2 linked regions of the Homo sapiens genome follow. The gene in region 1 interacts genetically with each later gene. Each region holds a gene or a part of one and is shown in the gene's direction. Other genes may lie near its edges.

Evidence for each region. Genes that interact genetically often act in the same process or in processes that back each other up.
Region 2: changes in HDAC2 (region 1) and SMARCA4 together harm fitness more than expected from each alone (negative genetic interaction), as found in Homo sapiens cells (one large-scale study listed by BioGRID).

The regions. Positions count from the first base shown.
Region 1 is NC_000006.12:113,961,149-113,964,648, reverse strand, and holds part of HDAC2 (histone deacetylase 2), read left to right. Parts: intron 1-2,254; exon of another isoform or gene 2,255-2,282; intron 2,283-3,500. UniProt on the Homo sapiens protein: Histone deacetylase that catalyzes the deacetylation of lysine residues on the N-terminal part of the core histones (H2A, H2B, H3 and H4).
Region 2 is NC_000019.10:10,967,530-10,971,029, forward strand, and holds part of SMARCA4 (SWI/SNF-related matrix-associated actin-dependent regulator of chromatin subfamily A member 4), read left to right. Parts: intron 1-3,500. UniProt on the Homo sapiens protein: ATPase involved in transcriptional activation and repression of select genes by chromatin remodeling (alteration of DNA-nucleosome topology).

The DNA.
Region 1 (3,500 bases):
TGAAAAAGATACAGCATAGACAGACGACTGGTCCCAGGACTTAACTCCCGAGAGAAGAGAATTTAGGGCAGAACTATTGTTCACTGATGAACCCAAACCCTTAGAACAGTACCTGCTTGGCACATGGTAGGCTCTTGATTTATTAAATGAATGGCTGAACTGAAAACCCTTGATGTTTAAAGGTTGGTGGAGGAGTGGCCTTGGGGTACAAGTAAAATCCCAAGAAAATGGTATTATGGAAGCCAAGGCTCCGAATGTCTCAAGGAGGAATAACCTCCTTGAAATATGTATTAAAGATGTGTTAATATGTATAAAAAATGGATAGTGGGCTAAGTAGTCTGGAAGATGAAAATAATAAACTTTTTTCTTTTCTCTTGTTTTTTTTTTCCTGAGTCTCTTTTTGCAGTCAACTTATCTTTGTGGCTAAAGGTACATTTCACAGTTCTGAAATCCAAAATGACCTGAAAATTGAAAAAAATTTTGGTAACTCATTTGGAATCAAAATCTTAACCTGAATCAATGTGAGGCTATTTATGATCTTTATTCCTCTGTGAATACCGTGAATATTCACACTTTTTTGCTGTAGAAATATTAATGTTTGATTATATCATGCCACCCAAACTCTAGGCTATTACATAATATATGGCAGGTGTACCATATTATCTCTACAAAATCTGAAAAAGTGTAAAATTTGAAACATATCTAATTTGAAGGAATATGGATAAGAGATTGTGGACCTTAGTAGACACTTCCATTCTGTTAGTTTCTTGAAGAGTGAGCAATTTGTAAAATTTTGCAGATAAATAATTCTTTACAGTAATTTCTTTGCATTGACAATTAAAGTTTGTTGTGTTCAAGGAACCACCTTGAGCTGATTTTTCTGAATGTTTATTTCATTGGTAAAGTATTTTTATGTACAGGTTGAATATCCTTTATCTGAATTCTTGGGACCAGAAGTATTTCAGATTTGGGGAGGTTTTGCAATATTTGTAATTATTTACCAGTTAGCATCCCTAATTCGAAAATCAAAAATTTGACATGCTCCAGTTAGCATTTCCTTGACTATTAAGTTGGTGCTCAAAACAGTTCAGATTTTGGAACATTTTGGATATCAAATTTTTGGATTAGGGATAATCTGTATTTTGATGCAAATCAGTAACATTTAAAATGCCCAAATTATTAATACATTACTGACCATTTAAATGATGAATAAAAATTGTAGGGTCTTAAAACTTCTTAGCCTTTTTATACTTTATGAAAAAGTGGGCTGGGCACAGTGGCTCACATCTGTAATCCCAGCACTTTGGGAGGCTGAGGCGGGCAGATCATCTGAGGTCAGGAGTTTGAGACAAGCCTGGCAAATATGGAGATACCCCGTCACTACTAAAAATACAAAAATTAGCCGGGTATGGTGGTGGGCGCTTGTAATCCCAGCTACTTGGGAGGCTGAGGCAGGAGAATTGCTTGAACCCCAGAGGTGGAGGTTGCAGTGAGCCAAGATCACATCACCGCACTCCAGCCTGGGTGACAAGAGCGAAACTCCATCTCAAAAAGAAAACAAAGTGGATGCCTACAAAGTAGCCATCTAGAGAATTGTGAGATACAGAATTAGTGGGAAAAAGTTGGAGATGGTTATTTTATAACGCCTTTATATTTTAGAAGAATTCTTTTTTTTTTTTTTTTTTGATACAGAGTCTCGCTCTGTCACCCAGGCTGGAGTGCAGTGGCACGATCTCGGCTCACTGCAACCTCCGCCTCCTGGGTTCAAGTGATTCTCCTGCCTCAGCCTCCTGAGCAGCTGGGACTACAGGCGCATGCCACCACACCTGGCTTTTTTTTTTGTATTTTTAGTAGAGACGGGGTTTCACAATGTTTGTCAGGAAGGTCTCGATCTCTTGACTTCGTGATCTGCCCGCCTCGGCCTCCCGAAGTACTGGGATTACGGGTGTGAGCCTCCACGCCCAGCTAGAAGAATTCTTGGTAAACCAAAAAATTATCTGTAGCTTGGCTGCCCTGTATACATGTATCATTTAGGTTCTTTGTGTATTCTTTGTGGGACTGGGGTCCCTAAATTTCAACAGAGAAACTTGTTGAAAGCTATGCGTATTCGTATACGATTTGAGGACCCTATTAGTAAAAAGTAAATTACTCTGATATATTAGGTACAGTTTCTTGTGTTCATTTTCTTTAAATTAACCAAGACCCTAAGCCTTTATTTAAAATATTTATATTTCATATTATGTCTTTTTTTCAGCCTTCACCCTGCCATTTCTAGTGAATCTGTAAGTGTCCTTGACATTCCCTGTTGTTATTACTTAAGAACATTAGCTGTGAGCTGCCCTGCCAGAGTTTGAATCTAGCTCCTCCACTTGCTGGCTATGTGACTTAGGCAATAATACCTGACTTGTCTGTTTCTCATCCTTCTTTACTATTATACAATAGGAATAATGTAATAATACCCACATCATAAGGTTATTGACAAGATTAAAAGATATGTGAAGTACTTAATAGTGCCTTCTAGTAAGCACTCAACAAGTGTTAATTACTGCTTTTTTTTTTTTTCAAACACACTTGCTCAGAAATTGCTACTGTAGTCTCCAATTATTGGGGCCTGGGGCTTTTCACTGGATTTTCAGTGTGCATCAAATAACTAGAGTATTTGATGTTATGATGTGGTAGATGTTAGAGACATTTCATTTGGGTAATTGTTACACAGAGGCAGATAGATGGAAGTTATTGTTTAGTTTGTGTCTTTTCTGTTTTAGGTGATATTGGAAATTATTATGGGCAGGGTCATCCCACGAAACCTCATAGAATCTGCATTTCTAGTGAAGACTAGACTTTCATTATTTTTACTTTAATGATTTCTTTAGTAGTGATAACTAAGAAATGCCTTCCCTTGTATTAATTTAATTACATGATGCTTTGTAATAACACTAGTGGGTTTTCCATATCTAAGAAATGATGAGACCAGGCTGCTTTCAAGGAACTATATATCCCTTGTATTGTCACCATGTAAGGTAGAGCTTTATGGTAGATTCTTTCTTAATAGGTAGTTTATTTTCTGCAATCATAGCCTCTTAATTATAATTGCAGAGGAATGTTGCAAAGGGCCATGGCCCTGCTTTGCTAAACTCTATATTGTTTCTTAGCCTTGTTGGCACCTGCATTAAAAAGGTGGCTTTCCCTTTAAAAGACTTTGTATATGAATTGTTTTCAGAAGAGAGCTGTGCTGAAAATGAAGTTAACTAAAATTAGAGGTGTGATACCAACAAAATCAAGTATTTATGTTATTAGAAGCATGGATTTTGTAAAAGCTGATTGTTTATCCCGTACTGTTATCAAATATGTAGGAGAGAGGACAAAAAAGTTTTTGGGGTTGTTTCCATTAAACAAACAAAAGGTGTATTTAGGGAGGACTTTGAAAGATTTAGTGGATAAATTGCATTTTTTATTCTAGCTTTTATTGTAATATATAAACCCGTGTTGAAATGATAGAC
Region 2 (3,500 bases), on another chromosome or scaffold:
TTGATCTCCTGACCTCGTTATCCGTCTGCCTCAGCCTCCCAAACTGCTGGGATTACAGGCGTGAGCCACTGCGCCCGACTGGAAGGGGGCTTTCTTTAGAAAATAGGTAAATGTTAGTAGGGTGGAAACCAACCCTGGCCCCTTTCAAATGTGTGGTTTTTTTTTTTTTTTTTGGAGACAGTTGTACTCTTTTCTCCCAGGCTGGAGTGCAGCGGTGTGATCTCGGCTCACTGCAACCTCTGCCTTCCAGGTTCAAGCAATTCTCCTACCTCAGCCTCCTGAGTAGCTGGGATTACAGGCGTGCGCCACCATGCCCGGCTAATTTTGTATTTTTTTTTAATTTTTATTTATTTATTTATTTTTTTGAGACGGAGTCTTGCTTAGTTGCCCAGGCTGGAGTGCAATGGCACGATCTTGGCTCACTGCAATCTCCGCCTCCCGGGTTCATGCCATTCTCCTGCCTCAGCCTCCCGAGTAGCTGAGACTACAGGCGCCCACCACCATGCCCTGCGGGGGTTTCACCATGTTAGCCAGGATGGTCTTGATCTCCTGACCTCATGATCCGCCCGCCTCAGCCTCCCAAAGTGCTGGGATTACAGGCGTGAGCCACTGCGCCCGGCCAGTAATTTTGTATTTTTAGTAGAGACGGGGTTTCTCCGTGTTGGTCAGGCTGGTCTCAAACTTCTGACCTCAGGTGATCCGCCTGCCTTGGCCTTCCAAACTGCTGAGATTACAGGCATGAGCCACCACTCCTGGCCTCAAATGTTTTTTTAAGTCCCAGACTGGTTTCCAGAGCTTTGCTTTTGGGGACTCTGTTACCTCCCTAAAGGGGCATAGCTTCATTTATGTATGTGGACACTTGTCACTGTGAACCGTTTTGCTCTGTGTGCAGCCAGCTGTGAGTGTGATAGAGTAGCACGGGCCCCGTTTTTAATAGTGATCGACTTTAAAATGGTTCTTTGAGGAGGTGTTTTTTTTTTCTTTCCACTTTTTATTTTTTTAGAGACGGAGACTCGCTGTGTTACTTAGGCTGGTCTTTAACTCCTGGACTCAAGTGATCCTCCAGCCTCCACTTCCTGACTAGCTGTGATTACAGGCGTGATCCACTGTGCTAGCTCTTGGGAGTTTTTTAAGTTTTCTCTTTGCCACTGGCAAGTCACGCCCCAGTGGCTCAGGAAGCAGGTGGCTGATGTGACAGTTGCTGCTCACCTGTTCCAGTGGGAGACTTGAGGGGGAGGGTCTGCTGTGTGCGACCCATCTTGCTCCGAAAGTCCCAGTAAAGGGGCATAGTGGATGTCTCATTGTGCCCAGGGAGCTGAAACTGCCCCTGTGATGATCAAATGTGATTCTGGCACAGCCTGGACTGGCTGGGCACCTGAAGGCCTTGCCTGCCTCCTGGAGGCATCTCCTGGGTGCCTGTGGGAGTGGCTCTTTACTTGCCCTTCCTCTTGACTCTGCCCTTCCTCGACCTTCAAGGTTCTCATCCTATTCCTTTTGATCCTCGGCCTGAATCAGTTACTCAGGCCCTGGAGTCAAAGAGACTTGAGGCGGGATTCTGTTCTGCATGGCTTAACCTCTTTGAACTCAGAATTCCGTTTTCCTCTCAGAATCTCCCTGGCCTCCACCCTCTACCTCAAGAACCAGGGGCTGAACCCCGGCCCTGCCTGTCTTTGCCAAGCCTTGCTCTAGGGCTTGGTCAGCCTCGAGGAAGGGGGGCCTTGTTATGTTTATTTAAAAATTTATGTTTTAGGTTTTACTTTCTTAGAAGTGGAGGTCTTGATGTTATCTCCCAGGCTGGTCTTGAACCCCTTGGCTCAAAGGATCTGCCTACTTCAGCCTCCCAAAGTGCTGGGATTATGGGCGTGAGCCACCACGCCTGGCGCCTTTTTATATTTCTTTCTTTTTTTTTTCTTTTTTTGAGACAGAGTTTGTCTCTTGTTGCCCAGGCTGGAGTGCAATGGCGGGGTCTCGGCTCACTGAAACCTCCGCCTCCTGGGTTCAAGCGATTCTCCTGCCTCAGCCTCCCGAGTAGCTGGGATTACAGGCATGCACCACCACACCTGGCTAATTTTGTATTTTTAGTAGAGACGGGGTTTCTCCGTGTTGGTCAGGCTGGTCTCAAACTCCTGACCTCAGGTGATCCACCTGCCTCAGCCTCCCGAAGTGCTGGGATTACAGGCATGAGCCACTGCACCTGGCCCCCTTTTTATGTTTCTAACAGCACGTCCCAGCCGAGACCCTGGTGTTCACCCTTGCCTCATCTCTTGCCCTCACTTGCACATCCATTCCATCAGCATGTCCAGAGAAATTAAAGTCATTATCAGACCGTGCCACTCCCGTGCCTGGAACATTCTAGCAGCTCCCCACTGCACTGGATGCTCCTGGAACCCCTTTACTGTGGCCCTCAAGGCCTGTGACTTCTCCCCTATGCCCCACCTGTGGCCGCACCCACTTGCCCTCTGAGGTATGATATGGAATATATTTGGTCTTTGCGCCACATGTCATAGGAGTGATAGGTGTGTCTTTTAAAATTCATAATGAGCCCCTTTTGATCACAGCTGAGTTTATGCTTATGAGGTGATTTAGGATGGGGCTCCTAGATAGCCCAGGATGGGGCTGGTTACCAGAAAGACCAAGTGCTTAGAGGGTGGCATGTACGGAGGGGCCATTGAAGCTGTCTGTATTGCTTCCATCTGGTTGACCCCGAGTCGTATCCGTTATAATAAACCATTAATGGGAAGTGAAGTGCCTGCCTTAGTTCTGGGCGCTGCTTTAGCAAATCAATCAAATCGAGGAGGGGGTTGTGGGAATTCCCAATTTATAGGTGGCTGGGCAGAAGTACTGGACCCTGGGATGTGCAAATGGCATTTGTAGTGGGAGCAGTCTTATGGGACAGCTCTTTTTCTTTTAGAGACAGAGTGTCACTCTCACCCAGGCTGGAGTGCAGTGATACAGTCATAGCTCACTGCAGTGTCCAGCTCCTGGGCTCATGTCATGCTCCCGAGTAGCTGGGACTACAGGTGTGCACCACTGCCAGGCTTAGCTAATTTTTAAATTTTTTGTAGAGACAGGGTGCTATACTTCCTAGGCTGGTTTCAAACTCTTGGCCTCAAGCAGTCCTCCCACTTTGGCCTCCCAAAGCACTGTGCTTAGGTGAGCCCACTGCATCTGGCCGATAAAGTCCTTAACTTGTGGGAGATAGAGTCTGAATTGAGTTAAATTGTAGGACACCCAGCTGGTGTTTGGAGACTTGGAGAATTACTTGGAAAAGACCCACGCATCTGGTCACAGAATTGTTCTCGGTTATGAGAGTATAGTAGAAGAAAACTGGTTTTCTCTGAGTTGGTGTCAAAAGTGCTGTGTGAGAGTGTAGAGAAACGGAGTGTGGGCCAGGCACGGTGGCTCACGCCTGTAATCCCAGCATTTTGGGAGGCTGAGGCGGGTGGATCACCTGAGGTCGGGAGTTTGAGACCATCCTGACCAACATGGAGAAACCTAGT